6 separate regions of the Homo sapiens genome follow, and all the other regions are reported to be linked to region 6. The links are microRNA targets in miRTarBase. Many come from high-throughput screens and were not tested one by one. Region 6 holds a microRNA gene; each other region holds the end of a gene's coding sequence. Distances are from middle to middle.

What was found. The annotated mature microRNA hsa-miR-664a-5p reads ACUGGCUAGGGAAAAUGAUUGGAU and lies in region 6 at 2,308-2,331, shown strand. An mRNA with a match to its seed (bases 2 to 7 or 8) in the 3' UTR can be bound and repressed. Matches are read on the target gene's strand: a 7mer-m8 pairs with bases 2 to 8, a 7mer-A1 pairs with bases 2 to 7 and ends in A, and an 8mer does both.
Region 1: the mRNA of FBXL16 is a reported target of hsa-miR-664a-5p. Seed matches in the 3' UTR shown: 7mer-A1 at 2,062-2,068.
Region 2: the mRNA of SLC35F6 is a reported target of hsa-miR-664a-5p. The part of its 3' UTR that is shown has no 7-base or 8-base seed match.
Region 3: the mRNA of OTUD3 is a reported target of hsa-miR-664a-5p. The part of its 3' UTR that is shown has no 7-base or 8-base seed match.
Region 4: miRTarBase lists NONO as a target of hsa-miR-664a-5p. Seed matches in the 3' UTR shown: 8mer at 3,666-3,673.
Region 5: miRTarBase lists POLR1G as a target of hsa-miR-664a-5p. Seed matches in the 3' UTR shown: 7mer-m8 at 2,754-2,760.

The regions. Positions count from the first base shown.
Region 1 is chr16:690,875-695,005 of GRCh38, reverse strand. It overlaps FBXL16 (F-box and leucine rich repeat protein 16), which reads left to right. Exons shown (of 6, transcript NM_153350.4): 4 at 1-14; 5 at 309-372; 6 at 583-2,506. The coding sequence ends at 731. Among named protein-coding and RNA genes, the nearest start is that of WDR24, 2.5 kb to the right of the region's middle.
Region 2 is chr2:26,778,035-26,782,159 of GRCh38, forward strand. It overlaps SLC35F6 (solute carrier family 35 member F6), which reads left to right. Exons shown (of 6, transcript NM_017877.4): 6 at 8-3,197. The coding sequence ends at 477. Among named protein-coding and RNA genes, the nearest start is that of CENPA, 6.0 kb to the right of the region's middle.
Region 3 is chr1:19,907,333-19,911,332 of GRCh38, forward strand. OTUD3 (OTU deubiquitinase 3) reads left to right here. Exons shown (of 8, transcript NM_015207.2): 8 at 238-4,000. The coding sequence ends at 414. Among named protein-coding and RNA genes, the nearest start is that of PLA2G2E, 14 kb to the right of the region's middle.
Region 4 is chrX:71,299,675-71,303,803 of GRCh38, reverse strand. NONO (non-POU domain containing octamer binding) reads right to left here. Exons shown (of 12, transcript NM_007363.5): 12 at 2,636-3,862. The coding sequence ends at 3,728. It overlaps ITGB1BP2 (integrin subunit beta 1 binding protein 2), which reads right to left and starts at 2,054. Exons shown (of 11, transcript NM_012278.4): 1 at 1,934-2,054; 2 at 1,618-1,667; 3 at 1,471-1,527; 4 at 1,248-1,393; 5 at 448-542; 6 at 288-343; 7 at 107-177. The coding sequence starts at 1,997. RefSeq lists an enhancer at 1-256.
Region 5 is chr19:45,408,853-45,412,852 of GRCh38, reverse strand. POLR1G (RNA polymerase I subunit G) reads right to left here. Exons shown (of 3, transcript NM_012099.3): 3 at 2,116-4,000. The coding sequence ends at 3,352. ERCC1 (ERCC excision repair 1, endonuclease non-catalytic subunit) reads left to right here. Exons shown (of 10, transcript NM_001983.4): 10 at 3,128-4,000. The coding sequence ends at 3,178. Among named protein-coding and RNA genes, the nearest start is that of POLR1G, 4.2 kb to the right of the region's middle.
Region 6 is chr1:220,198,786-220,202,916 of GRCh38, reverse strand. MIR664A (microRNA 664a) reads left to right here and starts at 2,298; the gene lies at 2,298-2,379. It overlaps RAB3GAP2 (RAB3 GTPase activating non-catalytic protein subunit 2), which reads left to right. Exons shown (of 35, transcript NM_012414.4): 9 at 543-641. It overlaps SNORA36B (small nucleolar RNA, H/ACA box 36B), which reads left to right and starts at 2,241; the gene lies at 2,241-2,371.

The DNA.
Region 1 (4,131 bases), not on the chromosome of region 6:
GATGGTGCTGCCAGGTACCGGCTCTCACGCCCCGGGATTGGGGGATCGGCGGGGAGGTGGGGGCGCGGGGAGAGCTCCCGGCCCCACTCAGATCCTGGGAGAGTCTGGGGCCCCTCCCTATCCAGCAGCCGACCTAAGCGGAACGCAGGGGTCCCGGCGGCCCCCACGAGCACTTCCCAGCCGCCTCCCGGCTCCGGGGGGGACGGAGGAACCCCGGGCTTGAACCCGCCTAGCCCTCCATGGACCCCAGGGTGCCCTCCGCCTCGGTGCGAGCGGAAATCGTTAAGTCGCTCCTCCACTCCCGACAGGTGCAAGACTTCGGGCTGAAGCACCTCCTGGCCCTGGGGAGTTTGCGCCTCCTGTCTCTGGCAGGTGAGACCCCCGTTTCTGCTCTGACGCTGGCAGTGACCACCCACCCCCACTTAGTCCACCCGCCCAACCTGCCCGGTCCTTGTGCAAACTCACACCCGGCGCGGACACACAGTCCCGGGTCCGAGGCGGAGGAGGAGGGAGGCGCGGCCCGGCCGTCCCCGCCCGAGCCCTGGGCCGCGCGCACTGAGCCGCCCTCTGACCCCGCCGCAGGCTGCCCGCTGCTCACCACCACCGGGCTGTCGGGCCTGGTGCAGCTGCAGGAGCTGGAGGAGCTGGAGCTGACCAACTGCCCCGGGGCCACCCCCGAGCTCTTCAAGTATTTCTCGCAGCACCTGCCCCGCTGCCTCGTCATTGAGTAGCGCGAGGCCCCCGCCCCGGTCGCGGGAACCCGGCCATGACCTGGGCGGGGGCGCGGGGCGCCGCCGAGCCCCCTCTTCCCGCCTTGCGCTCGGGGGAGCCCCCGCGCCCCCGGCCCAGCGCGGGAGGCGGGGCGAGCCGAGGGAAAGCCCCTCCCCGACCTTCGGTCCCTCCGCCCTCCCAGCCCCGCCCCGGGCAGGGGGGCGGCGGGTGGGCCCGCCCCACGCACGCACGCACACTCGGGGACTTTGTGCATGCCCCTCGTGCCCGCACTGCACGCCGCCCTCCGCCACGCCACAGCCACAGCCGCCGCCATCACTCGCTCGCCCTCCCGCTTGGGGGGCGGGGCTCGGTCCTTGGGGGGGCTTTGAGCTCTCCAGACTGTGCCCTTACCGCCTTCCCCGCCACACCCGCTCTGTCTTCCCACTGTCCCCCCCATCCCGGGCAGGGCCCAGTGGGATTGAGGGGGCTGGGTCCCCCAGGACACGGGCCCAGAAGAGCCCCACGGGCTTCCTGCATCTTCCACCGCACCATACCTGGAGCCCTCCGAGGGGTGTCAGGGGAAACAGGCCACCGCCAAAGCCATGGCCCGCCGCCGAGAGCCCAGGCCCCACCCGCACCTCCTCACCCATCCAGCCTGACCCACGCGGCCTCTCCTCCTCCTTGCCGCTGTGTGGGGCAGTCCCCTGTCCGCCCCAAAACCCGGCCTTGGTCCCTGGCCAGGCTGAGAGAATTGGGCAGGGAGAGGGCGGAAGGGCTGGCGATCGCTTGGAGTCATTAACGTGATCCCAGCTGACTCCGGTCGGCCTCAACCCAGGGGTGGCGCAGGCACCTTGCAAGCCTCGAGCTGTAGCCACCCTCAGGCCTGGGAAGAGGCCTGGGCCGACCTCACACCTCAGCCCTTGCACCCGGCCGGGCTCAGTTCAGGCCTGGGCACCGAGCTTCACCCTGGGTGGGTCTCCTCAGGTGGAGTCTGCAGAGTGGACCCAGCCAAGGGTCAGGGTCAGCACTGGGTCAGCGACTCCAATCTTCCAGTGGCCAGCACACCCTAGACACCCCGAGGAGGGAGGGCTCCTTTCTAGCCTGCCCCCCCACCCCCACTTCACCCCTCCCCAGCTTCCCAAACTTCTGTCTGCCCAAATGGGCTCTGACCGTGCTCTGTCGGCCCGAGACATTTGGAAGTCCTGGGGGATGCTGGCAAATCTCAGCTGTTGCTGAGGAGGGGGCTGGGACCCCTTCCCATCCCAACCTTGAGCCCCAGGAGATACCGCGCCCACACCCAATCTTGGGACACTCCCTATCTGGTTGGAAGAGAGTAACCAGTTTCCAGAGAGCCAGAGAGTGAGAGAGAGAAAGAGAGTGAGAGAGAGAGAGAAAGAGAGAGAGAGATGCTGTTGAATCAGAAACAGATCAACAGCCCAAAGATTTTCCTGTCCCTGGAGTGCCAGCCCCAGGAAGCTCCAGGGCTGAGTGGTCAGGAGCCAGTTTCTCCAGCCCCTCCTCCCCACAACCCCTAGTGGGGAGGGGCAGCTGTCCATTTGCCCAAAGTATTAATGCAACTGAAGCTGTGATATTTCCAACGACTGTAGGAGGAAAAATTAAGGGGAGAGAGGAAAACAAAACCAACCAACCCCTAAAATCATTTTCTTATTGTACATAACGACCTCATTCTCCTGTATATGCGGAAGATATAACCTTATATTTGGTAAGTGTTTCTTGTGCTATTTTATCACGTGACCTGTTTATAAAAATATATATTAAAAAAGTTGTAAAAACATGTGTCTGAGTTGTTTTTAGGTCCCCAGACAGCGGTGTAGGTGGGCATATCTGCCCTGCGCATCCCAGGTCTCGGGATTCTCCTGTACCTCTTATCAGATTTATTCTTTCTTGCAACAAAGGGGTAGAGGCTGGATGCCGACATGGTAGAATGGAAACAGCAGTGACTACATGGAAGGCAGAGGACCTCCCATTCCTTAAAGGGAGAGACAACACTGAAGTCACTACACATAATATTCCCTCCAACATATCCAGACTCTAGCCCACCCTTCCAGAGAGGCAGAAATAAACCCTGTTCTATACACAGTAACAGGCAAGGACAAGGATGTCGCAAAAGATTACAAAATGCACCAATAGCAGACAATGGCTCACACCCAGGAGAGACAGAGAGGTCGAAAAAGGCAACTGAGGCTGGGCACAGTGGCTCACGCCTGTAATCCTAGCACTTAGGCCGAAGCGGGTGGATCACCTGAGGTCAGGCGTTCAAGACCAGCCTGGCCAACATGGTGAAACCCTGTCTCTACTAAAAATACAAAAAATTAACAGGGTGTGGTGGTGGTTGCCTATAATCCCAGCTACTAGGGAGGCTGAGGCTGAATCGCTTGAACCTAGGGGGTGGAGGTTGCTATGAGCCGAGACTGCGCCACCTCACTCCAACCTGGGCGAAAGAGCAAAACTCCGTCTCAAAAAATTTTAAAGAGACCGGGTGCGGTGGCTCACACCTGTAATCCTAGCACTTTGGGAGGCCAAGGCGAGTGGATCACCTGAGGTTGGGAGTTCGAGACCAGCCTGACCAACATGGAAAAACTCCATCTCTACTAAAAATACAAAATTAGCCCAGTATGGTGGCCCATGCCTGTAATCCCAGCTACTCGGGAAGCTGAGGCAGGAGAATCGCTTGAACCCAGGAGGCGGAGGTTGCGGTGAGCCAAGATTGCACCATTGCACTCCAGCCTGGGCAACAAGAGCGAAACTCCGTCTCAAAAAGTTTTTTAAAAAAAAGAACGAGAGCAACTGGTTGAACAGGTGTGTCAGGCACTGGGCATTCGGTGGGGATTGAGCCAGAATGTGATTCCTGCCTTGGTGGAATTCACACTCGTATGTGACCGACAACAACCAGTAAACAAACGAATGGGTGGTGACAAGTGCCGTGGAGGCCACAGTGATGGAGAAGCCCATTAGGGCAGTGGTCAGGGAGGTCCGCTCTGTGGAGGAGGCATCGCACGCACGTACAATGTCCCTGAGGCAGGAAAGGGCTTGGTGGGCTGGGAATGGGGGTGGAGGCTGCCATGGCTGGAGGTGGGCAGGGGAAGGCGGAGGCCAGGAGTTGGGGTTCATTCACAGCATAGTGGGAGCTGCCAGAGGCCTCAGGCAGAAGACCTGGTGCCTGACTTCTGTGCGGGTTTCTGATCAAAGGGGAAAGACGGACCCAGGAAAGCCGTTGGGAGGCTGCTCCCGAGGTCGAGGAGTGAGGAAGGAGGGGAAGACTGGGGGCACTCGGAACTTGTCTAGGGATGACCAGATGTCATGATGGACCTGGGGATTAAAATAGGTGATGGCATTAAAATACTGAAATTGAGACTTAAAAAACAGGCCAGGCGCGGTGGCTCACACCTGCATTCCCAG
Region 2 (4,125 bases), not on the chromosome of region 6:
TCCCCAGGCCTCTTTGGCTTTGTGATCCTCTCCCTGCTGCTGGTGCCCATGTACTACATCCCCGCCGGCTCCTTCAGCGGAAACCCTCGTGGGACACTGGAGGATGCATTGGACGCCTTCTGCCAGGTGGGCCAGCAGCCGCTCATTGCCGTGGCACTGCTGGGCAACATCAGCAGCATTGCCTTCTTCAACTTCGCAGGCATCAGCGTCACCAAGGAACTGAGCGCCACCACCCGCATGGTGTTGGACAGCTTGCGCACCGTTGTCATCTGGGCACTGAGCCTGGCACTGGGCTGGGAGGCCTTCCATGCACTGCAGATCCTTGGCTTCCTCATACTCCTTATAGGCACTGCCCTCTACAATGGGCTACACCGTCCGCTGCTGGGCCGCCTGTCCAGGGGCCGGCCCCTGGCAGAGGAGAGCGAGCAGGAGAGACTGCTGGGTGGCACCCGCACTCCCATCAATGATGCCAGCTGAGGTTCCCTGGAGGCTTCTACTGCCACCCGGGTGCTCCTTCTCCCTGAGACTGAGGCCACACAGGCTGGTGGGCCCCGAATGCCCTATCCCCAAGGCCTCACCCTGTCCCCTCCCTGCAGAACCCCCAGGGCAGCTGCTGCCACAGAAGATAACAACACCCAAGTCCTCTTTTTCTCACTACCACCTGCAGGGTGGTGTTACCCAGCCCCCACAAGCCTGAGTGCAGTGGCAGACCTCAGCTCTCTGGACCCCTCCTACAGCACTAGAGCTAAATCATGAAGTTGAATTGTAGGAATTTACCACCGTAGTGTATCTGAATCATAAACTAGATTATCATAGTTATCTAGTTTATGAGTCATAAGCTAGATTTGATTCTTCAAAGAAGAAAAGTCAGTGAGCAAATTTAAACCAGAACTAAGCATTATATTTTCTTTTTTTTTTTTTGAGACAGAGTCTCGCTCTGTCGCCCAGGCTGGAGTGCAGTGGCACGATCTCGGCGGCTCACTACAACCTCTGCCTCCCAGGTTCAAATGATTCTCCTGCCTCAGCCTCCCGAGTAGCTGGGATTACAGGTGCATAACACACCTGGGTAACTTTTATAGAGATGGGGTTTCACCATGTTGGCCAGGCTGGTCTCAAACTCCTGACCTCAGGTGATCTGCCTGCCTCGGCCTCCCAAAGTGCTGGGATTACAGGCGTGAGACACCACACCCAGCCATAACTAAGCATTATGTTTTCTAAAACTTCTAAGATCCTCCCTAAACCCGTCTGGAGACATGGGTTTTAGCCCAGACTCTGCCTCAAACTCATTGTAGCTCCCAGCACATTACCCAGTTGCTCTGGGCCTTGGTGTTATGCTCTGGGAAGTAGATGTTGATGCTGTGGCCTTAGTGCCTTCTGGCCCCAGCATTCCATGGGCCTGTGATCTTGACCAACCTGAGAAAACAGTAACAGCCCATCCACTGGAAATACCCCTCTGCCCACAGCACCACCCTTCTGTGCTGTTTTTTTTGTTGTTTGTTTGTTTCTTCTTTTTGAGACAGAGTCTTGCTCTGTTGCCACGCTGGAGTGCAGTGGTGTGATCTCGGCTCACTGCAACCTCCCGCTCCCAGGTTCAAGCAAGTCCCCTGAGTAGCTGGGACTACAGGCGTGTGCCACCACATCCGGCTAATTTTTTGCATTCTTTAATAGAGACGGGGTTTTGCCATGTTGGCCAGGATGGTCTCAATCTCCTGACCTCATGATCCACCTGCCTCAGCCTCCCAAAGTGCTGGGGTTACAGGCATGAGCCACCACGCCCAGCCTTTTTTTTTTTTTTTTTTTTTTCTTGAGAGACAGGGTCTTGCTCTGTCACCCAGGCACAGCTTACTGCAGCCTTGAACTCCTGGGATCAATCAGTCCTCCTGCCTCAGCCTCCCGAGTAGCTAAGACTAACAGGTATGTACCACCATGCCTGGTTTATTGTTTTATTTTTTTGGCAGAGATGGGTCTCACTGTGTTGCCCAGGCTGATCTCAAACTCCTGGCCTCAAGCGATCCTCCCATCTCAGCCTCCCAAAGTGCTGGGATTACAGACCTGAGCCACCACACCTGGGCAACAGAGTGAAACCTGTCCCTGTTTTCCTGCTCTTACTCTCACCTCTGAGGCCTCCTCTGCCTGGAAGAGATTACAGGGAAATTCCAGGCAGCCCTTGTCAATTGTTTTTATGAATTCTTTACCTGTTCCTTTTAAAGACAAGGAAACTGAGGCCCAAAGTTCTAAGTTGTTTGGCAAATGGAGTCTCCTACCCTCAGCTCCTGCAAGGACCTGGGGGACCCCCAGGTCCAGCAGCCACATGATTCTGCAGCAGACAGGGACCTAGAGCACATCTGGATCTCAGCCCCACCCCTGGCAACCTGCCTGCCTAGAGAACTCCCAAGATGACAGACTAAGTAGGATTCTGCCATTTAGAATAATTCTGGTATCCTGGGCGTTGCGTTAAGTTGCTTAACTTTCATTCTGTCTTACGATAGTCTTCAGAGGTGGGAACAGATGAAGAAACCATGCCCCAGAGAAGGTTAAGTGACTTCCTCTTTATGGAGCCAGTGTTCCAACCTAGGTTTGCCTGATACCAGACCTGTGGCCCCACCTCCCATGCAGGTCTCTGTGGGGTCTTTGGGATGGATCTCCTAGGGCTGGGCTGGAAGCCTCATGTACTGTTGTCTTCTAGGTAACCACCCTGAAGAGAAGGGGTGGCATCAGGAACCGCAGGGAACCAAGCAGCCTTTGGTCCAGTGCTGCTCCTTGGAACAGTTGAGTGTGGCCTCAAACCATTCTCCTGGGTAGCTCAGTCATAAAACACCGAATGCCTGCCTCAAAATAGCCTCTGAGGGAAGGGAGCTGTTGACAAGTGAAGCCCTCAGGTTGTGTGGGATTCCAGCAGGTTATTACAGCTTGTGGGGGGAGGGAGGGTCCATTCCACCAGCTTTGAATCCCAGGGTCCCCTCAGCTTCACTGGGCCACAGTGTCTGTCCCAGGAAGAAGCAAATGGACAGTGAGGATGATGGAGAGACTACAGCTGCCTTGTCTAAAACCTGGGATCTTAAAAGTGTTATTTTGGCTTTTATTTTTTAAAAAAAGAAAAGGAAAATTGGCAATTGTATTAATCCATTCTCGAATTGCTGTAAAGAAATACCTGAGACTGGGTAATTTAATTTATAAAGAAAAGAGGTTTAATTGGCTCACAGTTCTGCAGGCTATACAGGAAGCATAGTAGCTTCTGCTTCTGGGGAGGCCTCAGGAAACTTACAATCATAGTGGAAAGGCAAAGGGGAAGCAGACACATCTTATGTGGCCAGAGTAGGAGCAAGGGGGCGCAGGAGGAGGTGCCACACACGTTTTAAACACCCAGATCTCACAAGAACACTCAAGAGGACAGTACCAAGTGGAATGCTGTTAAACCATTCATGAGAAATGCACCCCCATGATCCAGTCACCTCCCACTAGGCCCCACCTCCAAGATTGGGGATTACATTTCAATATGAGATTTGGGTGGGGACACACATCCAAACTATATCAGCAGTACTGGACATTTTTCATGAGAGAGAAGGGGCACAAGAGGATGTCTGGAGCTAGCCTCTAGAATGTTGGTGTGGAAAATCTCTCCAATGTTTGAAAAGCATACCAATTACCTAGTCCTCCATTCATTGTTCAAATGAAGAAACCCAAAAAGCAGAAGTAACTTCCCAAGGGTCACACAGTCAGTTAACAGGCAAAAGCCAGATGTCCTGGTTCTCAATCCTCGCCTGTCCCATTCTGCCACAGATACTGCAGCCAGAGGCCAGGCATGGTGGCTCACGCCTGTAATCCCAGCACTTTGGGAGGCCGAGGTGGGTGGTTCACCTGAGGTCAGAAGTTCGAGACCAGCCTGGCCAGCATGGCAAAACCCTGTCTCTAGTAAACATACAAAAATTAGCTGGGCATGGTGGCACAAGCCTGTAATCTCAGCTACTCAGGAGGCTGAGGCAGGAGAATCACTTGAACCCGGGAGGCAGAGTTTGCAGTGAGCCAAGATCACGCCACTGCACTCCAGCCTGGGCAACAGTGAGACTCAGTCTCAAAAAAGAAAAAAAAGCTTAAAAATAAAGATATAAACCGGGTGCGGTGGCT
Region 3 (4,000 bases), 200 Mb from region 6:
GGCTGGTTTCTTTAAGAGAAGAATGGAATTGATTTTGTTTGCTAGTTCAGCAAGGAAATATAAATTTAAATGCAAATTTGAGCAGCAGTGGACAGTAAATCATCTTTGGCGTCTTAGATTGGTTTTCCCTGTTCCTGCTGAAAAGCAATCTGTGCCCTTTGCCACCATCTCCCTTCTAGCAGGTGGCAGCTTGAGTCCCCCGTGCTTCCTACTCACCACCATGGCCTTCTCTCTCAGGTCACAAACAAACAGAGGCGAGAACAGCAGTGGATGGAGAAGAAGAAGCGGCAGGAGGAGAGGCACCGCCACAAAGCCCTGGAGAGCAGAGGTAGCCACAGGGACAATAACAGAAGCGAAGCAGAGGCGAACACGCAGGTCACCTTGGTGAAGACCTTCGCCGCTCTCAACATCTGACTCTTTGGCCTCTTGGGAGTTGTAAGAAGCGGCTGGAAAAGGATTGCTGTGTGCTAGACTTTCCAGTGAGGCCGTCCTTTTATAAAACGCAACACAACCAACGAAGCCCACACATGAGCTCACACACTGAGTTAGTTTCGTTCAAGCTGCCTCTTTTTTTGTTCGAAGTTTTATTAGTGATATGTTGGTGTTTTATGAAAATGCAGTGAGGCCATTCATATTCTGTAATACAAAATTAAAATACTGAGTTTTAGGGGCAGATAGTTAGGTCAGGAAAAACCTTTTAAGTGGTGGCTTTATTTGCCCTGAAAATCAGACTTCAGTGACCCTAGGATCTTTCCTTAACATTTGGGGTGAGTTTTGCTGTAATTGTTCATGAGTAGTTTAGAATAATTGTTAGAAATTCAGAATGACAAGTTTCCTTAGTTTCTCTTTCATTCTCAAACAGATATATAGGGTAGCTTATAAATGATCTCCAACTCAGGAATATGCTTTGATTTACTTCTAATCCAAGTTACTCAGAAAATAATTCAGGAATTGTTTTCCCAAAGTTACGTGAGGGTTGTGGCCTGCAGTCAGGATGGAAATTAACCGCATTTCTCTCCTTCCTGATTCTGATGTTATTTCAGATGGGATGCAGGTGCTGTTAGTTCATTTGCACTCAAGCCATATGATAAATGCAGCTGACTGTTAATTAGGCCTGGCCTTGTTGGGAAGTTGATAGTGGTGTTGGGTTTTTGGTATTTGTTTCCTGACAGTGGGGAGATGGCATGTTACTGCTTGTGATACAGTTCTGGAATTCTGATAGTGTGTAGAGCAGGGTCTATAGTTGTAACAGGAGACGAACTCCTGGGGTTTTGCCTAAGAGGAGTCTAAAGAATTATGTTTTTATAGGAGAAGCCTGGAAGAATAAGGTTTTTCATGTTCGCATTTTAAATAACGATTTTCTTCCCTTCTGTTGTAGACTTAGATGCCTTCAGAGAGATACGTGGTAACTTGACCTTATAGGTCGCTAAACTTAGTATTGTGGAAATTAAATCTTATAAAATGCTACATTTATTTCTTTTTATTTAAGCCCTGTTTGGCATTTCAAAGTTGGGAAAACTCCAGCATCTGCTGGAAGTTGTTGGACCAGCAGGGTTGGTTGACTTAGGTTGGACCAGCAGAGAAGAGAACATACTTTGGTTGAGGCCTTCGAATCACTCTTCAGTTCTGAAATAGACAGACTTGAGCAGTGGAGAGACGTCTTTCCTAAAACTGAGTTAGGTGGATGTGAACTTAAGAACTATAACGTATGAGGCAGCCCATCTTGGATCATCTTTGTCTTTTGGGACCTAATACTTGGGCAAATAATTGATGCTGAGTTGAAAGGTAAATTATTAGTTATCTTCCCCACCCCTCGCATTTCAGAATTATAAAAATTCGGAGGCAAATTGAAAACTAAAATGTTTGGTAGGCCCTGGAGTCGCCAGATTGTCTTTATCACCAGGCCTTTGGCTTTCTTCAGTTTCACTGGTATCTTTTGGTTTTGTTTTTGACTTTGGTGGCTTTTTGTAGTTGGAGCATCAGTAGTCTCTTGGAATTGCTCCTAGGACATTGTGGTTTAGGTTTCTTCCTGGGTACAGTACATTGTAAAATTTAGCAGATTAAAAAAAGTACACAGCATTTTTTTTCTGTGCACGTCGCAGAGTCCTGAGCTTGAGGCTGTGTTACTCTACTCATTCCAAACGAATGAAAGATCTCTGTTGCCTTACTCTAAGGAAGTGGGATCGAGTGCGTTAGGATCTATGGTTGTCTTGGTTTTCAACTCTGGGCAGATTCCTGACTGGCTGAGTGTTTCTGAATGAAGATGTTTTCCTGTCTGTTTTGTACTGCTTGAGTGCAGAGGCCAGATCCTCTCAGAAAGATAAGATTGTATGCCAGAAATTCAGATTAGCAGTCAGCTTAAGAGAGACTTATTGTCAGAAGTAGTAGAATTGCTTTATTTACTTGGTTAATGAAGGTGGCCTTGGGCCCTATTGGGTTTTAGAAGTTTTAGAAGCTGCTAAAAAGTTATTAAAGAATATTGGGAACATTTATTTTTTAAATTACCTAATTCTGGTAATAGGCTTCAGCATTTCTGGAGTATAATAATGGTGGTTTAAAAAACTAATCAAACGGCTTTAGTAATTTTACTACTGGTTTCACAGCTTTTCAGTTACAGTTGGTCTGTTTAGTGTGTTAATTATTAGGAATCGGGTACATGCATCCAACTTCAGTGATACCTTCTAGCTAATGGTTTCAATTTAGACTTCACTGCCTCAGTCTCACTGGGTACATGAGAAGGTTGGAATCAACATGCTTAGTTGCCTCAGTGGGCACTTGAAAATTCCTTCACTGGCAGCCCGAGTGGAGGCCCAGTATGTCTAGTCCTGGGATGACTGTTGTCAGCAGCTGTTACTCTAGTACAGGTGCTCCTGTGAACTCTTTATTAGGAACTGAATGTGTCTTAACCTCTGTGTTACATCTTGGCTGGCAGAGATTTATGTTACATGAGATTGTCTTGGTAGCTTGTAGTGTGGTCAGGAGAAAGGGGATGGAGCAGTGGTGCATAGCTGCTTACTGCTCTTATAAACGGTATATAAAGGTTTTACGGATTTTGAAAATATTTTTTTTTAGAGGTCAAAATAAATACCATTTTAGTGGCAACAGCTTTGAACTAGAGAGGTAGATGTATTAAAGCAGCATAGAACCATAACTTCTAGATAATGTAGTTGCCACTAGGAGATATTAGAAAGTTAGAATGTATGTGTGTATTTAGTTTTTCAATAATAATGAACATACACTTTCAGGAGCAAAGTATGGTTGAGAAATTGTGGCAGAAAGAATTTTAAATGTTAGTCGAAGTTGTCTGTAGTTTCTTTATTAAGCTCTGAAAACACTTCCAATGCCAGTTTGATTCTGAGGGCTTGGGAAGTGGGATCTCCCTTGTGGAGCAGCTGGAGCTGGCTGGGAGGGAGCCTCTCCATGGGTAATTTATTATGCCTGCCCTGCTTCCCCCAGGGAGCTGCTTCAGTGTGAAATGATGTGATTGTCGGGGGTGGGGTGGGAGGAGGGCCACCTTCAGTCGGGGAGTTGCTCACATATTACACAGGTAGCATCAGGTGGACTTCAGCGCTGAACTGTACTAGTAGTGAGTCCCTGTAGTCAATGTGCAATTTCTCTAATTCTGAGAAACTCTGTAGACTCTGCCTGGGTTTTACTGGGTCAGCATAGAATGCTATCAGTTTACCTCTGTGAAATATTCAGTCAGTTGAAGGAAACTTGGATTCCTAGTCAGAGGTGACTAAAAGTTACCCTGACCAAAAGGATCTCTGCGGGGGGAAGAGAATGGAGCTTCCTGATTTTAATGTGTTGCGTCAGTGGCCCTCTTCGACTCCCGTTTTGGGTAGATGCGTAGCTCTTCACTTTCTTACCTCAAGGCTCTGTCTAGCCATGTTAAATCTTTAGACTCAGTCTGATGCCGTTTTTCTGTTTTGCCATTCTCATTATTCACAGCTTTCAGAACAAGTGTTGCTAAAACTCCGGGGCCTTTGACAGTTGTTCT
Region 4 (4,129 bases), not on the chromosome of region 6:
GGAAGATAATTCAACTGAATTCTCTCACCCCCAATATTATCTTATGACCAAATATTAGGAGAAACCTGTCTCATAGCCTCATAGCCCACCCAGTCCCCTCCCTCACCCCTCATGGAATCGGGGTGCTCCTGGGTGGTAGGTACATGGAGTAGCATCACTCTCAGGGCCTTGGTAAACCTAAGAAGGATAAAGTAGAACCAGGTCATTCTAAGGTATATCCTACTCAGCCTATCTATACCCAGTCATCCCTCAGCCATATGCTTGAGCCCCTCAAAACTCTCACTCACAGCATCACATCCTGGGTTCTGGCAGCTGGAACCAGTCCGGATCAGACTGTCAAGTCCTGGGCAAGGGAAACAGAGTCAGGAACTTATCCATCCCCCCACTCAATTGCCACTTCCACTAAATTCCAGTCTATGAAGTTGATCCTACTAAAGACCCACCTACCTGCCCCAGGTTCCTGGTCTAATTCCTTCTGTTCCAATGCCATTTCCAGGGCTTGGGATATATTTAGCGGCAGCAGCTTCAGAGGCAACTCTGACCTAGGGGTTAAGGGTGGTGATTTAGTTCTGACCCATTAGCTATGATTGCTAGCTCCAACACTCCCACCGATGGTAATGGAATTAAAGAAGCCTGGTGAAAGTGAGGCAGAGTTGGAGAGGTTGGGTAGCAACCCCATTGCCAATTTTCATCTCTGTGGACATCCCAAATACCTGAACCCTAGAGAAATCCCCAGCACTTCTCTTACCCATCTACTCAGTTGCTCTAAACCTAACCACTTTTCTCTGCAGAACTGAGTCATATCCTCTTCCTCTTTATCTAATCGTGGACCTAATATGACTTCCTTCTGTTGCTCTTATTATTCCCACAAAATTTGGGAAGTCTCCTGGCTGCCAATAATACAATACATCCTTTTCTTGATATGAGATTTATCTTAAAGTTCTTTTCTAGAAAGAGAAGTCATTCTCAACAATCCCTTTTGTGTTATACACTAAGGATGTATTTGTGAGGGGCTATCTACTCTGTTGATTCAGGTATCTATCCCATCATCCCACACCACCTTAGAGGAAAGGGCGTTATTTCCAGACACAAATTTCCCCTAAGGCACAGGATATACACCATCCAAACCCTGACATCTGGCCCTCCTCACATCCCTGGTCCCTAGTTCCCAGTCCTCAATGACCCATTAATCACTCCTAGGAAGCTACATGAAAATAAGAAAAGTCCAGGGGCCTCCTCCTCTTTACTTGGGCCTCTCCCGGCGCAAGGTCTCTGCTGACTTTGGAATCACATTCAGAGGTTTTTGCTCCTGAAGTGAACTGCTTGTAGCAGGGCCTTCAGGTTGAGGGGCCTCAGGAAGCTTCTCAGCACAGTGTGGTCCCATAGTACAGCCCTAGTATAGATAAGGAGATAGGATTAGGGATAGAATCCTTCTATTGGGGGCAGAATCCAAGTACATAAATAATTTACCTTGATGTTTAAGAACTCAGAGAAATCTACAGTTCGCTTTCGGCAGCAGGACCAACCCTGATAACAAGAGACCCAGATCAGCTTAGCTTCCTGGGTATTATCTCTTCTGGGAAATGCTCTTGCTAACCCCCCTCACCTACTCCTCACCTTAAGTGCATCATGGAAGATTGGGACCCCAGGGTGATGGCAACAGGAATCTGTGGACATCAGTAGAAGTTATCAAGGAAGGGAAGATAACTATACCAAGTATCATTTTTCACCTCTTCCCCGGGTTTCTATTTATGGTTTCTTCCCATATAATGTGAAGAAAAAAAAAAAAGCCAGCAAAGGCTGTAAGATCACTCAGACCAATTAAACTAGGGCAGGTAGTTTCTTTCCCCGCTCCTCAAACACACTGCCCCCCAGCTGACCAGTCCCCAACACCCACACAGAGCCCCTGGCCAGGTCAGGATTCTTTACTCACCAGGAAGGTTGGTATTAGGGTCAAAGTGCTGCCCACAGCCTTTGTTACGACAGAGTAGAGACATGGAAGCGTTGGTTGAATGATTACTGAAAGGGTATTTCAAGGAGTCTGGCTGCCGAATGGGGAACACCTCTTAGTCTGGAGGCTTTTAGCTGCCTGGAAGGGCCAGCTGTTTCTATCTTTAGTTCAGGAGGCGTACACCTCCTAACATGGGCAAGGGAACTTCAATTCGTCTTTCCAGCCAATAGGAAAGAGCTCGGGGGCATTTTAGCTCTGAGGCTCAGGAAAAAAGGATCAGGCAGAGTAGGGCTTTGAACTTGGGTGAGGTCAGCTCACCACTACTGAGACAGTTTTAGATTCACCACAGCAATTCCAAGCCTTGGACACAGCAGCAGCTGCTAAGAAACAAATACCAATTTTGAGACCCCCCCCGCGCCCCCAGCTCGATGAGGATTAAGCCCATTTTCTTCCTCTTTCAGAGGGGCAGCTTTCCTCCATCATTACTTCCATGTAGTATCAATAGCGCTAATCCTTGCCAACCCCTCCAGCCATTTGATGCACCTCATCCCCACCTCCTCCCCATGTTTGTCTAGATCAATACTGTAATCCAAAGGTCATAAAGGATTACCTTTATAGAGTCTACTGCTCATCTCCTAAGATAACTCCCCTCCCTCCTTTCCCCTTCAAAAACACCACAGAAAATTAAAAGGCTTAAAATGTATTTTAATAGGTTGATGCTGCATTACTGCTCCATTTTTCAGAAAAACTCCAAATATATGAGACAAATCAAACACAGTACACCAATGAAAAAAAAAATGCACAGCATGACTACCTAAGATAGGCGAGTCTAAGAGCTACTGTCAGACCTTCAGTATACAGTAACCCTGTTCCCAAGATTGTACTAGGCCTATCAAGAAAAGCTGTGAACAGCAACATCATAGACACAAAAGGGTCATTCCTGGGTGTCCTCACCCAAGAAAAAGATGGAGGCAAGTTAACACAAGATTTTTTTTTAAAGATACACTAAAATGAAAATCTCTAAGAGAAAATGTCTTCTTTAGGACATGAAGGGGTAATATATGGGGTATAACAGAACCGTATGTACGCTGCCTGTGACCTTTGTGGACGTTTGCCTGAATTCTCACCTGGGAGTGAATGGAGCAATGGGGCTAAGGTCATTGGGGGATGTTTGGTTTTTGTGGTGTATGTGGCAGTTTCTCTGGGGCTGGGGGAGTGTAAGGATAAGAAGCAAGTGAGGTTGGGCACGGTGGCTCACCCCTGTAATCCCAGCATTTTGGGAGGCCGAGGTGGGTAGATCACGAGGTCAGGAGTTCAAGATCAACCTGGACAAGCTTGAACCCGGGAGGCAGAGATTGCAGTGAGCCGAGATCATGCCACTACACTCCAGCCTGGGCGACAGAGTAAGACTCCGTCTCGGGGGCGGGGCAAGCAAATGAAACAAGATGGACAAAAAAAAAAAAAACCGGAATGATCAAGATTAATGGGCTCTAACTGGATCCACTTTGCCATGGTTTCCCCAGGCCCTCAACAGTCACATTAGAGACTTCAGGAATGCACCACACAGAACTGATTAAACAATATACCACACAGAATTGACTTGTTTAATACCACCCCTCCCTTGCCCTCTGCCTCCAGCATACTCCCTAGAGTAGTACAGGCAGGGTAGATCTAACTATTGGAAGGAATCCCTAACACTTTTCCAGGGTAGAATTCTGGCTAGTCCAAAAAGGGTCCTTCTTTTAAGGGTTTTGAGAAACTAGACACTGCAACTTATTAGTATCGGCGACGTTTGTTTGGGGCAAATTCAGCTCCAGGAGCTGCACGGTTGAATGCAGGAGGAGTTCCACCAATTGCCCCAATTCCTTCCATTGTAGCAGCCTGACCAAAGCGTTCAGTTGTTGGTGGGGTCTTAAAGAGAAAAAGAGAGCAACACTGTAACAGAGCCATTGTTGGAAGCTTCCCACCCATCTGTAGTCCCTCCACTGGAGGCTATTTCCATTCAACTATTCAAGGCTCCTGATGGTAGGTAGGAGTGGGTGACTAAGTCTGTTTAGAACTCTAGTGGATAACCCCAAAAGTGGTGGCGCATGCCTGTAATCCCAGCTACTCAGGAGGCTGAGGCAGGAGAATCGCTTGAACCTGGGAGGCGGAGGTTGCAGGGAGCCAAGATTGCAC
Region 5 (4,000 bases), not on the chromosome of region 6:
CAGGACAATCGTTTGAACCCGGGAGGTGGAGGTTGCAGTGAGCCAAGATAGCGCCATTGCACTCCAGCCTGGACAATAAGAGTGAAACTCTATCTCAAAAATTAAAAAAAAAAAAAAGAATAAAAGGCTTCTGCACAGCAAACATTCCACAAAGTGAAGAGACAACACACAGGATGGGAGAAAATATCTGCAAACTAACCATCTGACAAGGAATCAATAATCAGAAGATAAGAGTTCTAACAACTCTATAGGATAAAATATAATAATCCAATCAAAAAGTGGGCAAAATATTTGAATTAACATTTCTCAAAAGACATACAAATGGCAAGCAGGCATATGAAAAGGTGCTCAGCATCATTGATCATCAGAAAAATGCAAATCAAAACTACAGTGAGGCTGGGTGCAGTGGCTCATGCCTGTAATCCCAGCACTTTGGGAGGCCGAGGCGGGCAGATCACTTGAGGCCAGGAGTTCAAGATCAGCCTGGCCAACATGGCGAAACCCCATCTCTACTAAAAATATAAAAATTAGTTGGGTGTGGTGGCGCATGCTTGTAATCCCAGCTACTTGAGTGGCTGAGGCAGGAGAATCTCTTGAACCCGGGAGACGGAGGTTGCAGTGAGCTGAAATCACACCACTGCCCTCCAGCCTGGACAACAGAAGCAAAACTCCATCTCAAAAAAAACCAAAAATAGGCCGGGCATGGTGGCTCACGCCTGTAATCCCAACACTTTGGGAGGCCGAGGCGGGTGGATCGTGAGGTCAGGAGATTGAGACCATCATGGCTAACATGGTGAAACCCCGTCTCTACTAAAAATACAAAAAAAAATTAGCTGGGTGTGGTGGTGGGCACCTGTAGTCCCAGCTACTCGGGAGGCTGAGGCAGGAGAATGGCATGAACCTGGGAGGCAGAGCTTGCAGTGAGCCGAGATCATACCACTGCACTCCAGCCTGGGTGACAGAGTGAGACTCCATCTCAAAAAAGAAAACCAAAAACCAAAAATAAACTATAATGAGATACCATCTCAGCTCTATTAAAATGGCTTATTATTATTTTTTGAGATGGAGTCTCACTCTGTTGCCCAGGCTGGAGTGCAATGGCATGATCTCAGCTCACTGCAACCTCCGTCTCCTGGATCCAAGCGATTCTCCTGCCTCAGCCTCCTGAGTAGATGGGATTACAGGCACTCGCTACCATGCCCAGCTAGTTTTTGTATTTTTAGTAGAGATGGGGTTTCCCTAGGTTGGTCAGGCTGGTCTTGAACTCCTGACCTCTGGTGATCCACCCACCTCGGTCTCCCAAAGTGCCGGGATTACAGGTGTGAGCCATGGTGCCCGGCCTTAAAATGGCTTTTATCCAAAGGACAGGCAATAACAAATGGTGGACAGGCAATAACAAATGGTGGCGAGGATGTGAAGAAAAGGGAACCCTCATATACTTTTGATGGGAATGTAAATCAGTACAACCACTATGGAAAACAGTTTGGAGGCTCCTCTAAAAACTGAAAAGTTGAGGTTCCACATGATCCAGCAATCCCACTGCTGGGTATATCCCCAAAAAAAGGAAATCAGTGTATGGAACAGGTATCTGCACTCCTGTTTGTTGCAGCACAGTTCACATTGCCAAAACTTAGAACCAACCTGTGTCCATCAGCAGATGACCAGGCAAAGAAAATGTGGTACTTACACACAATGGATACTCTTCAGCCATAAAAAAGAATGAGATCCTGGCTGGGCGCGGTGGCTCACACCTCTAATCCCAGCACTTTGGGAGGCCGAGGCGGGCAGATCACTTGAGGCCAGAAGTTCAAGACCAGCCTGGCCAACGTGGTGAAACCTTGTCTCTACTAAAAATGAAAAAATGAGCTGGGTGTGGTGGCGCGTGCCTGTAATCACAACTACTTGGGAGGCTGAGGCAGGAGAATCGCTTGAATCCGGGAGGCGGAGGTTGCAGTGAGCCAAGATTGTGCCACTGCACTCCAGCCTGGGCGACAGAGCGAGACCCTTTTCAAAACAAAACAAAACAAAACAAAAAAAACATGAGATCCTGTCAATTACAACATAATGAACTGGGGATTATTATGTTAAGTGAAATAAGCCAGGCACAGAAAGACAAACATTGCATGTTCTTATTTATTTGTGTATCTAAAAATCAAAACAATTGAACTCATGGAGATAAGAGTGGATGGATAGTTCCTGGAGGCTGGGGAGGGTAGTTAGGGGCTGGCAGGGAGATGGGGAAGGTTAATGGGTACCACACACACACACACACACACACACACACACAAAGAAAGAATGAATAAGACATACTATTTGATAACACAACCAGGTGACTATAGTCAATAATAATGGTACATTTTAAAATAACTTGGCAGGGTGCGGTGGCTCACACCTGTTATCCTAGCACTTTGGGAGGTCAAGGCAGGTGGATCACGAGGTCAGGAGTTCGAGACCAGCCTGGCCAATATGGTGAAACCCCTGTCTCTACTAAAAATACAAAAATTAGCCGGGTATAGTGGTGGGCACCTTTAGGCCCAGCTACTCGGGAGGCTGAGGCAGGAGAATCGTTGGAACCCAGGAGGCGGAGGTTGCAGTGAGCCAAGATCACACCACTGCACTCCAGCCTGGGTGACACCAGGAGACTGTCTCAAAAAAATAATAATAACTTAGCCAGGCGCAGTGGCTCACACCTATAATCCCAGCACTGGGAGGCTGAGGCAGGCGCATCAGGAGGTCAGGAGATCGAGACCATCCTGGCTAACGTGGTGAAACCCCATCTCTACTAAAAAAAAATACAAAAAATTAGCTGGGCAGGGGCCTGTAGTCCCAGCTACTCAGGAGGCTGAGGCAGGAGAATGGCGTGAACCCGGGAGGCGGAGCTTGCAGTGAGCCGAGATTGCGCCACTGCACTCCAACCTGGGCGACAGAGCGAGACTCCATCTCAAAAAAAAAAAAAATAATAATAATAATAATAACTTAAAAAGATTGTAACTGGATTGTTTGTAACTCAATGGATAAATGCTTGAGGGTATAGGGGAAAATAAAGAACCAAAACCCCACTCTAGATTTACCCAGGAAACAGCTCCTTTAATGACTGGTTCCTCATTTTTTTCTCCCTCCCATCCAGGCCCGGAGGCTGTTTGATGTCCTGCACGAGCCCTTCTTGAAAGTACCCTGATGACCCCAGCTGCCAAGGAAACCCCCAGTGTAATAATAAATCGTCCTCCCAGGCCAGGCTCCTGCTGGCTGCGCTGGTGCAGTCTCTGGGGAGGGATTCTGGGGGTGTCACCTTCTGGTGGCCCAGGTGGGCACCTTCAGCTTTCTTTAGTTCCTCAGTTTCCCGGGGGCAGACTACACAGGCTGCTGCTGCTGCTGCTTCCGCTTCTTGTCCCGGCCTGTGGGAGCCTCCTCCCCAGACTCTGAATTCAGTGGCGGCCCTGGCATCTCCTCTTGGGGCACTGTCTCTGGCATCCGGCTTTCCTGACTCTGCTTCTTCCTCTTCTTGGTGGATCCCGGAGTTGCCCTGGCTTCAGGCTGTCCCTCCCCTGGCAGTTCAGGCTCTAGTGGCTGAATTGGCTCAGTCACTGTGTGACCTCTCTCTTTCTTCTTCTTCTTCTTCTTGGTGGATGTGGGAGCTGCCTGAGGCTCAAGGTCATCCGGCAGCTCAGGCCCCACCACCTCTGTCTCTGGCTCCACTGTGGCATCTTGCTGTTTTTCTTTCTTCGTCTTCTTTTTGGGAGCTGCCAGAGCTGCCTGGGCCTGAGGCTTCGCTCCTTCTGGCTGTTGAGGCGCCATGGTCCCCCCTGGGGACTCCAGAGGCTTCATCTCCGGCTCCACTGGCTCCATCGCCTCCGTCCCTGGCTCCATCATTGCCATCTGTCCCTTTTCTTTTTTCCTCTTCTTCGTAGGGGGCAGAGGGATGGCTTCCTCCAGTGGCTCCACCTTCACCTGTGGCTGAGACTCAACTGTCACCCCCTCCTCTGGCTCCATCCCTTCCGTC
Region 6 (4,131 bases):
GGCTGGAGTGCAGTGGCGTGATCTCAGCTTACTGCAACCTCCACCTCCCAGGTTCAAGTGATTTTCCTGCCTCAGCCTCCCGAGTAGCTGGTACTGCAGGCATGTACCACCACGCCTGGCTCATTTTTGTATTTTTACTAGAAATGGGGTTTCACCATGTTGGCCAGGCTGATCTCAAACTCCTGACCTCAAGCGACCTGCCTGCCTCGGCCTCCCAAAGTGCTGGGATTACAGGCATGAGCCACCATGCCCGGCCTGAATTCCCTTTGATTTTTAGTAGTAGTCTAGGATTTTTAATAGTCTTCTTTAATTACTGGAGTGTTCCAGAATCTTTTGTGACAGCCAACTTAGTCTTTTAAATGTTTGCATTTTACGTGCATTGTCTTGGTGTGAATAAATCTCACCTTATGCCTTGTTTTCATTACTTTGTGTCATTATTAGCTGAAATTTTAGAATAACAAATTAGTATGGTTTTAATGTTTTTTTGTAAAACTTCATTTTATCCATAATAAGTTTGGATTGTCTTATTTTATCTTTGGTAGCTGCAGCATCAGGCAATGAGAACATACAACCACCACCATTAGCTTATAAGAAATGGGGTCTACAAGATATTGACACTATTATTGATCATGCTAGTGTTGGTAAGTATTACTAATTCAAATTCTCTTGGAATTTACTTCTTACACTTTTTATTGAAGTATCTCATTTATTAGAAATGGGCATTTATTCTTTATTTATTATTATTATTTTTTAAGATGGAGCTTTGCTCTGTCACCCAGGCAGGAGTGCAGTGGCATGATCTCAGCTCACTGCAACCTCCACCTTCCAGGATCAAGTGATCCTCCCACCTCAGCCTCCCAAGTAGCTGAGATTACAAGCATGCGCCACCCCGCCTGGCTGATTTTTGTATTTTTAATAGAGACGGGATTTCATCATGTTGGCTGGGTTGGTCTTGAACTCCTGACCTCACCCGCCTCAGCCTCCCAAAGTGCTGAGATTACAGGCGTGAGCCACTGCACCCGGCCAAAATTTATTCTTATGTGAAAAAATGCATTGCCTTTAGTGAGACATCTGGAAGTTAGTTCAGATTCAGATCATCATAGGCATATATCTTTAAAACTGGGCATGATGGCTAACACCTGTAATCCCAGCACTTTGGGAGGCCGAGGTGGGTGGATCACATGAGGCCAGAAGTTCAAGATTAGCCCGACCCACATAGTGAAACCCCGTCTCTACTAAAAATACAAAAATTAGCCAGGTGTGGTGGTGCACACCTGTATTCCCAGCTACTTAGGAGGCTGAGGCAGGAGAATTGCCTGAACCCGGGAGGTGGAGGTTGCAGTGAGCCAAGATCACGCCACTGCACTCCAGCCTGGGTGACAGAGCGAGACTCTGTCTCAAGAAAGCAAAACAAAAACAAAAAGAAATGGTAGCAGTTTTAATAAAGATTTAATTATGCCCTCAGCCACAGTATTGTACAGTTTTAAGTCACTCACTGTTTGACTAATTTTTCTACAGACAAATTTGGTCTATATAATGACCATATAAATCAGTCTTAAAAATGTAACCTTGGTCAAGTGTGGTGGCTTGCACCTGTAATCTCAGCTACTCAGAAGGCTGAGGTAGGAGGATCTCTTGAGCCCAAGAGTTCAAGACCAACCTGGGCAATATAGCGAGACCCCATCGCTTAAAAAAAAAAGTAACCTTTAAACTAGTAAAATATAGATAAAAGCAGATTTCTTCTTGCAGCCACTATAAGAGAGCTTACTGTGTTAGGTACTGAGGGTATAGAGATGTAAAGACATGCTTCTCTGTTGTCTGAAAGTGTGAGTCTAGGAGCCTGGTTAGAAGAAACACATGAGAATGGCTACAATACTACAACATAGTAATTGTAACAGACAAGGGGACCAGCTGTAGTGGGAGCAGAGGAGGACACACTTATTGTTTCTCCAGCACACCATACACTTTTATCCCTAGATCTATGTGCATGTGGGCTAGAATGCCTCCTCTGTGTTTGTTCACTTGGTCAAGTTCTACTCATTCTATGCAAACTGGACACTGGGAGAGAAAGAGCAAGGAGAAGAGGAAGGAGAGTGACTCTAAAGAGGCTAAGGATATCTGACACACAGGCCATCTTTCTATTTACTGCATAGCTCTTACATGGAATACTCTGTAATAAAAACCTATTGGTAAACATTTCAGTGTGTCTACTTTTTTGCTAGCATAAAAATGCTGCAAAATTCCAAAGTGTTAAGTTCAGTTCAGGGTAGCTTCCCTGCTCTGTTAATTAAACTTTGGAACATTGAAACTGGCTAGGGAAAATGATTGGATAGAAACTATTATTCTATTCATTTATCCCCAGCCTACAAAATGAAAAAAGGTACAATAAACGTTATTGTATGTACATCTTTATGTAGAGGTCTGGTTAATTTATTCAACAAATAAATGAGTACCTATTAATATTTGTGCTAGAAATACAAGATAGGACCCCACCCTGATAAAGCTTACGTTTTGGTGATGGGGAGACAAACAATAAACTAAATGAATATCAAACTCTTAGTGGGCATCATGAAGAAAATAAGTAGGTTATGGTAGAGAGTAAAGGAAGAGGGTGCTTTAGGTAGACTAGTGAGGAAAGGCCTCTCCAAGGACATGACATTCAGACTGAGACTTGAAGGATGAGAAGGAGCCAGCTATGGAAAGAGGTGTAGGAAGAGCATTCTAGGTAGAGGAGCATCAGGGATATAGGCCTGGGAGCCTTGAAGACCTCAGAGTGTTCAAGAAACAGAAAGGGGGTTGGTGTGACTTGACTGTAAAGAGTGAGGGGAAAACAGGACAAGGTTAGGTTGGAGATGCAGACTGGGGTTAGATCACGTAGGGATAAGGAGATCCGATTTTATTCTAAATGCAGTGGATGTCACTGATGGATTCTAAGTAGGGGATTACATTTAAACATATCTCCCTGTTTGCTGGGTAGAGAGATGCTTGTAGAAGAAAGCAAGGAGACCAGTTATTGCAATAATTCACCCAAGAGAGAATGATGGCTTTATGGTGGAGGCAGTGGAGTTGGAAGGAAGTAGACAGATTTGAGATACCTTTTGTACTTGCTCAGGGATGGTTTTGAGAAACAAGAGGAAGGAAAGAATTAAGGGTTTCTTAATTTTTAAGTTTGAGCAACGGGCTGGATGATGAGACTGTTTACTGAAATGAGAATAAGGAGGAGGAGAGGAAGAGATTTAAGGTAGTCAAATAAAGAGTTACGTTTTTACAGGTTAACTTCTGACACAGTTAAACATTCAAGTAGAGGTATCAAGTATACGAATTGGACATGAGAGTCAGAAGTTCAGGGAGGAAGCTGGGAATGTACATATAAATTTGAGAGGGAGTGGTTTACTGTGGAATGTTTCGTAGAGTTCAAGAAAAGAAGAAGGTCCATTGGATTTGACAACATGGAGTTATTTACTTACTGACTTTTGATATGAAAGTTACAGTAGAATGGTGAGGATGAAAGCCAAATTAATATAGTCTTAAGAATAAATATTTTCACCCCCTGCTGTCTAAAATCACAAACAAGGAGCATAAGAAATAGATTCCCAGTATCTCCATTTTTATGGAGTCCTGACCTCTTGCTGAAGCCTCATACTCATTTCTCCAGCTCCCTACTGAATAATTTCTACCTAGATGTCAAACTTAACATATCCAAAATCGAGTAATTTCCTCCTGTCAAACTTGCTCCTCCTTTTTTTTTCTACATCATCTTTCTTCTTCTGGTTGCTCCTTACCGTGACATACAAGGCCCAACTTTATCTGGCTTATGGTACCTCTGACACTGTCTCCTGTAGGGTTCCCCTCCCTGTTCATTGTGTTTCATCATGTAGATCTCCTTTGTGTTCCTCAGACACAGCAAGCATATTCCTACTCTAGAGCATTTAGAATTACTGCTCCCTCTGCCTGGAAAACTTTAGCTAGTCACATGGCTTTCTCCCTCTCTTCACTCAGGTCTCCTTATATATCACATTGTCAAAGAGGCCTTCATTAGTCACTCTACTAGGCCTAGAAAATTATCCAATGAGTTTGACTTTATGGAAACTTATATTGAGAGGGACTTTGATGTCTTTCAAAGTGTGGGAA